Linked DNA regions of Homo sapiens: region 2 is linked to region 1. Evidence: fine-mapped expression QTL. A gene starts in region 1. The other region holds a variant in brackets. All regions are shown on one strand. Distances are from middle to middle.

What was found.
Region 2: its variant is fine-mapped to the expression of R3HDM2 in whole blood (TOPMed, PIP above 0.99).

The regions. Positions count from the first base shown.
Region 1 is chr12:57,429,650-57,432,560 of GRCh38, forward strand. R3HDM2 (R3H domain containing 2) reads right to left here and starts at 1,394. Exons shown (of 24, transcript NM_001394031.1): 1 at 1,071-1,394. It overlaps R3HDM2-DT (R3HDM2 divergent transcript), which reads left to right and starts at 1,467. Exons shown (of 2, transcript NR_185976.1): 1 at 1,467-1,781. RefSeq lists an enhancer at 536-645 and a silencer at 826-1,295.
Region 2 is chr12:57,274,475-57,277,385 of GRCh38, forward strand. All of the region lies in intron 14 of R3HDM2 (R3H domain containing 2), which reads right to left. Among named protein-coding and RNA genes, the nearest start is that of STAC3, 25 kb to the left of the region's middle. The variant G/A (reference allele first, on the strand shown) is at 1,715.

The DNA.
Region 1 (2,911 bases):
TTGCATTGAGCCGAAAAGGAACCACTACACTCCATTCTGGGTGACAGACTGAGACCCTGTCTCAAAAAACAAAATACAACCTTTTGTCTTGATACCCCAGCAACAAAAAGGGGGGCGGGGGTGGGGGGGGAATATTGGTGGAACAACAACAAAAAAAAGCATTAGGAAGAAGAGCCACAAATAATTCAACTGCAAATCTATCTAAAAATACAAGAAAATGCTAGGAATTTGTGATATTCCTGAAGTGAAACCTGTCACTTTCCTCCTTCCTTGAGTCTCCACGTGGCTTACGCATATCAGACAGGACTCAGGCTTCTCAATCTTAGTTATCTATTTGAACAACATTATGTACAAGGATATTCATCCAACTGGGATCTGAATTCAAACTTTTCCACTTTTCTTTCTTCCGTTTTAACGCAGTTCTGGGATTGTTATTCGGTCATTTCTCATCATTATCCAATGACAATTCACTCTAAGTCAGTATTCCTGGTAGTTCCGAGACTTAATGGCCACAAATGTTGAAAAATGTTAGCTCTACGGGAAAACGAATCGAAGCGTTTTCAGGGGCTCGAGTAGTTATGAGCTTAGTGTAGGCCCAAGTTTTAAGCTATAGAAACATCTCCCTGTATGTGCCAACTCAAATCCCCGTCCCTGTAAGAAACCTGGACACCAGCATGATTTTAAACACTTCTACACCTCTCCGTCCTATTTTTCCATGCTCCACGCTCGAAGGAAAACCGCCACCCAAGAAACACACGGAGCTAGCCACCCCGAAGCACTGGAAGGGCGCAATAGTTTTTAGGTCACCCCGCAAAGGCCACAGGTGGCGCCACCCCCCTGCCCCCGCACCGCCGCCCTCCGCCCCGCGCCCCCAGCTTCTCTCCAGCAGCGCACACTTGGAGCAGTCCTTCCCGCGGCCATCCGACCCTGACCCATCGTCCCCGGGACCGGCTGCCGGGCGCGAGGAACCCAGGCCGCGGGGCCTCCTCGCGCCCGCCCGTGCGGCCGCCACGCCCCCTCCCCACAGGCCGTCCGGGCCGCCCGCCCCCTCGGCCGGGAGGTGGCCTCACCTCGCACGGGCCTTGGCGGGGAGGGCGCCCACGTCTCCGCCCGCCGCCCGGGCCCACGGCCGCTCGGCTGCGGCTCGGCCCCGACGGCCGGCGGCGGCGCGCTTCTGGGGGCGGGCTTTTCTCGGCCGGGGCTTCCCCGGGGCCGAGGGCTGGGAAGCAGGGGGGACTGGGACGGGGGAGGGGAAAGGGGCTTGGGAAGGAGGGGGGAGAGGGGAAGAAAAGGGGGGAACCAAACCCGGAAAGGGAGAAAAGGGGGGAGGGGAAAATCAGAAGGGGAAGAAAAGCCCAGAGTCCGCCCCCCGCTGCGGCTGCGCGCTACGTCACTACGTCCGGCGTTGTCGTCACCTCGTCCTGCGTTCCGGCCGTCCCTGCTTCCTGGCTTCCCGCGTGCCCCTCAGCAGCCCTGCGGGGCCTACCGCCTGCCGCACGCACTCCCGCCGGCGCGCGCGCACTCGCACTCGCTCGCTCGCCCTCTCCTCCTTCCGCGTTACCTGTGTCAGGACACCAATCCGGAGTCACTGGGAGCCTCGGTCCTCCTTAAACCCTTCAAGTCTGTCAGATAGAATACCCTGGATTTCAATATAATACTAATAGTGATCATTCTAAAGTAATTTCCATTTACAGAGCACTTTCACTTAGGGCAGTAACTCCTGTACCAAAAGAACGTACACTCGGTATTTGTTGCATACGTGGATAACTATAGTTGAGCAGGTAAATGTCCATTTTACGTAAAGATGAAAAAAACCGACCTAGGAGGAACTCAGTCTGTCCTATTAAGATCACATTCTTACCATCATCCCCTCTCTAAGATACAGTTCTCAAAAATCGTCTTAAATGTCCAGCCTCCCCCGTTTTGTCCATTCTAGGCAGAATCAATTTAGTTATTGATTATGTGTGTGTGGATAATTTACTGACCAAACTCCCTCAAAGAAGCAATGTAGTCTTTTGTAGAATTCGACCATTAAATATTTACCTTGTGACAGAAACTGCGGTAGGCAAAAAAAGTCAAATAATTATAGTACAATTTAAGTGCTATAATAGAAAGGTTTAAATGTGCTATGGAAACACAAGGAACAGCAATTCGTTCTTAGCGGTAAAAGAGATTGAGTAAGTTACAGAGAAACTACAGGTGAAACTCCAGCTAATCTTGAGACTATAAATAGTTCACTAGAGAGGTAAGAATGGAGATTCCAGCAAAGTCATAGAGGCATGAAGTTCATCTTTCCTTCAAGGATGAGCAAGTTCCAGGTTGGTTGGCGTTTTTTGTTTGTTTGTTTGTTTGTTTTATTTATTTTGAGATGGGGTCTCGCTTTGTCACCCAGGCAACTAGATTGCAGTGGTGCAATGTCGGTTCACTACAACCTTCACCTCTCAGGTTCAAGTGATTCTCCTGCCTCAGCGTCCGGAGTAGCTGGGACTACAGGCACGCACCATCACACCCGGCTATTTTTTGTATTTTTAGTAGAGACGGGGTTTTGCCATGTTGGCCAGGCTAATCTCGAACTCCTGGCCTCAGGTGATCCACCCGCCTCGGCCTTCCAAAGTTCTGGGATTACAGGTGTGAGCCACCTTGCCCAGCCCTCTCTCCTGGTCATCACTGCCTCCTGCCCCCAAATTCTCTCAACCCTCTAGAGAACAACAACGGGGGAAGAAAAATACAACTGAACTGAACTGATCTAACCTGCCACTTTTCACCACGATTTAAACTTTTTGTCTTGGCCGGGCGCAGTGGCTCACACCTAGCACTTTGGGAGGCCAAGGCAGGTGGATCATTTGAGCTCAGGAGTTCCAGACCAGGCAGTGATGACCAGTAGGAAATAATAGCTAATATTTGTATTATG
Region 2 (2,911 bases), 160 kb before region 1:
TCAAACAAAACAAAACAAAACAAAACAAAACTGTGCCTGTTTTCCCCACACTTGTAAGTTCTGACTAAAGAGTAAAGTGAGAAGAAGTGATGCTCCTCTTAGGCCTCCCCTAACTGGGGAAGGGCAGTGATACGGGCAGGGATAGCAGTGCTATTTTTTTAGTTACTCCACAGCTATCCTCAGCCATAGTTCTCTTCTTGAAGGGTGTAAAACTACAAAGCCAGGGAAGCTCTGAAAAACCATGAGGAAATTTATTTAAACAAAACTTAGGAATATACCTAACCAAGGAGTTGAAAGACCTCTACATGGAAAACTACAAAACACTGCTGAAAGAAATCATAGATGATACAAACAGATGGAAACACATCTCATGCTCATGGATGGGTAGAATCAATATTGTAAAAATGACCATACTGCCAAAAGCAATCTACAAATTCAATGCAATCCCCATCAAAATACCACCATCATTCTTCGCAGAATTACAAAAAAAAAATTCTAAAATTCATATGGAACAAAAAAAGAGCCCCCATAGCCAAAGCAAGACTAAGCAAAAAGAACAAATCTGGAGGCAACATACTACCTGATTTCAAAGTATACTATAAGGTTATAGTGACCAACACAGCATGGTACTGGTATAAAAATAGGCACATAGACCAATGGAACAGAATACAGAACCCAGAAATAAACCCAAATACTTACAGCCAACTGATCTTTGACAAAGCAAACAAAAACATAAAGTGGGGAAAGGACACCCTTTTCAACAAATGGTGCTGGGATAATTGGCTAGCCACATGTAGGAGAATGAAACTGGATCTTCATCTCTCACCTTATACAAAAATCAACTCAAGATGGATTAAGGACTTAAATCTAAGACCTGAAATTAAAAATTCTAGAAGATAATATATTGGAAAAACCCTTCTAGATGTTGGCTTAGGCAACGATTTCATGACCAAGAACCCAAAACCAAATGCAATAAAAACAAAGATAAATAGTTGGGACTTAATTAAACTAAAAAACGTTTGCATGGAAAAAAAAAAAAAAAAACAGCAGAGGAAACAGACAAACCACAAAGTGGGAGAAAATCTTCACAATCTGTACATCTGACAAAAGACTAATATCCAGAATCTACGACGAACTCAAATAAATCAGTAAGAAAAAAACAATCCCATCAAAAAGTGGGCTAAGGACATGAATAGACAATTCTCAAAAGAAGATATACAAATGGCCAACAAATATATGAAAAAATGCTCAACATCACTAATGATCAGGGAAATCCATATCAAAACCACAATGTGATACCACCTTACTCCTGCAAGAATGGTCATAATCAAAAAATCAAAAAACAGCAGATGTTGGCATGGATGCAGTGTCAGGGAACACTTCTACACTGCTGGTGGGAATGTAAAGTAGTACAGCCACTATGGAAAACAATGTGGAGATTCCTTAAAGAACTAAAAGTAGGGCCGGGCGCAGTGGCTCATGCCTGTAATCCCAGCACTTTGGGAGGCCAAGGCGGGCGGATCATGAGGTCAGAAGATCGAGACCATCCTGGCTAACATGGTGAAACCCCGTCTCTACTAAAAATACAAAAAATTAGCTGGGCGTGGTGGCGGTTGCCTGTAGTCCTAGCTACTCGGGAGGCTGAGGCACGAGAATGGCATGAACCCGGAGCTTGCAGTGAGTCAAGATCGTGCCACTGCACTCCAGCCTGGGC[G/A]ACAGAGTGAGACTCCATCTAAAAAAAAAAAAAAAAAAAGAACTAAAAGTAGAACTACCATTTGATTCAGGAATCCCACAACTGGGTATCTACCCAGAGGAAAAAAAGTCATTATACAAAAAAGATACTTGCATGTGCATGTTTATAGCAGCACGATTCACAATTGCAAAATCATGGAACCAACCCAAATGCCCATCAATCAATGAGTGGGTAAAGAAACTGTGGTATATACACACAATGGAATACTATGCAGCCATAAAAAGGAATGAATTAACAGCATTTGCAGTGACCTGGATGAGATTGGAGACTATTATTCTAAGTGAAGTAACTCAGGAATGGAAAACCAAACATCGCATGTTCTCACTGATATGTGGGAGCTAAGCTATGAGGACGCAAAGGCATAAGAATGATAAAATGGGCCGGGCACAGCGGCTCACGCCTGTAATCCCAGCACTTTGGGAGGCCAAGGTGGGCGGATCATGAGGTCAGGAGTTTGAGACCAGCCTGACCTACATGGTGAAACCCCCATTTCTACTAAAAATACAAAAATTAGCTGGGCGTGGTGGTGCGTGCCTGTAATCCCAGCTACTCAGGAGGCTGAGGCAGGAGAACCGCTTGAACCCAGGAGGTGGAAGTTGCAGTGAGCCGAGAGTGCATCACTGCACTCCAACCTGGGTGACAGAGCGAGACTCCATCTCAAAAGAAAAAAAAAAAGAATGATAAAATGGACTTTGGAGACTTGAGGGGAAGAGTGGGAAGGGGGCAAGGGATAAAAGACTACAAATATGGTGCAGTGTATACTGCTCGGGAGATGGGTGCACCACAATCTCACAAATCACCTCTAAAGAGCTCACTCATGTAACCAAGTACTGCCTGTACTCCAATAACTTATGGAAAAATAAATAATGAACAAAAAAAAAAAAAAAAAAGACTGCCCTGAGGGATGTGGCTGCCACCTACTGGCAAATTCTGGGCTTGTTCACTGGCTCTTGATGACAAAAGGGGGCCCCGAGAACTCCTTTTCAAGAAGTCTACTTCATTTTAAGTAAATTGGGCAAAAGGGAGATCCTGGCCCTTTAATCCTCAGCCTCACCCCTGGTTTCACGAGCTTCACCGACACACAATTTGAAGGCCTGCTTGGACAGAGGAGCCCTGCCAGGAAGGGAAAGATCATAGTTTAGTCAGTACTGTTCCCAG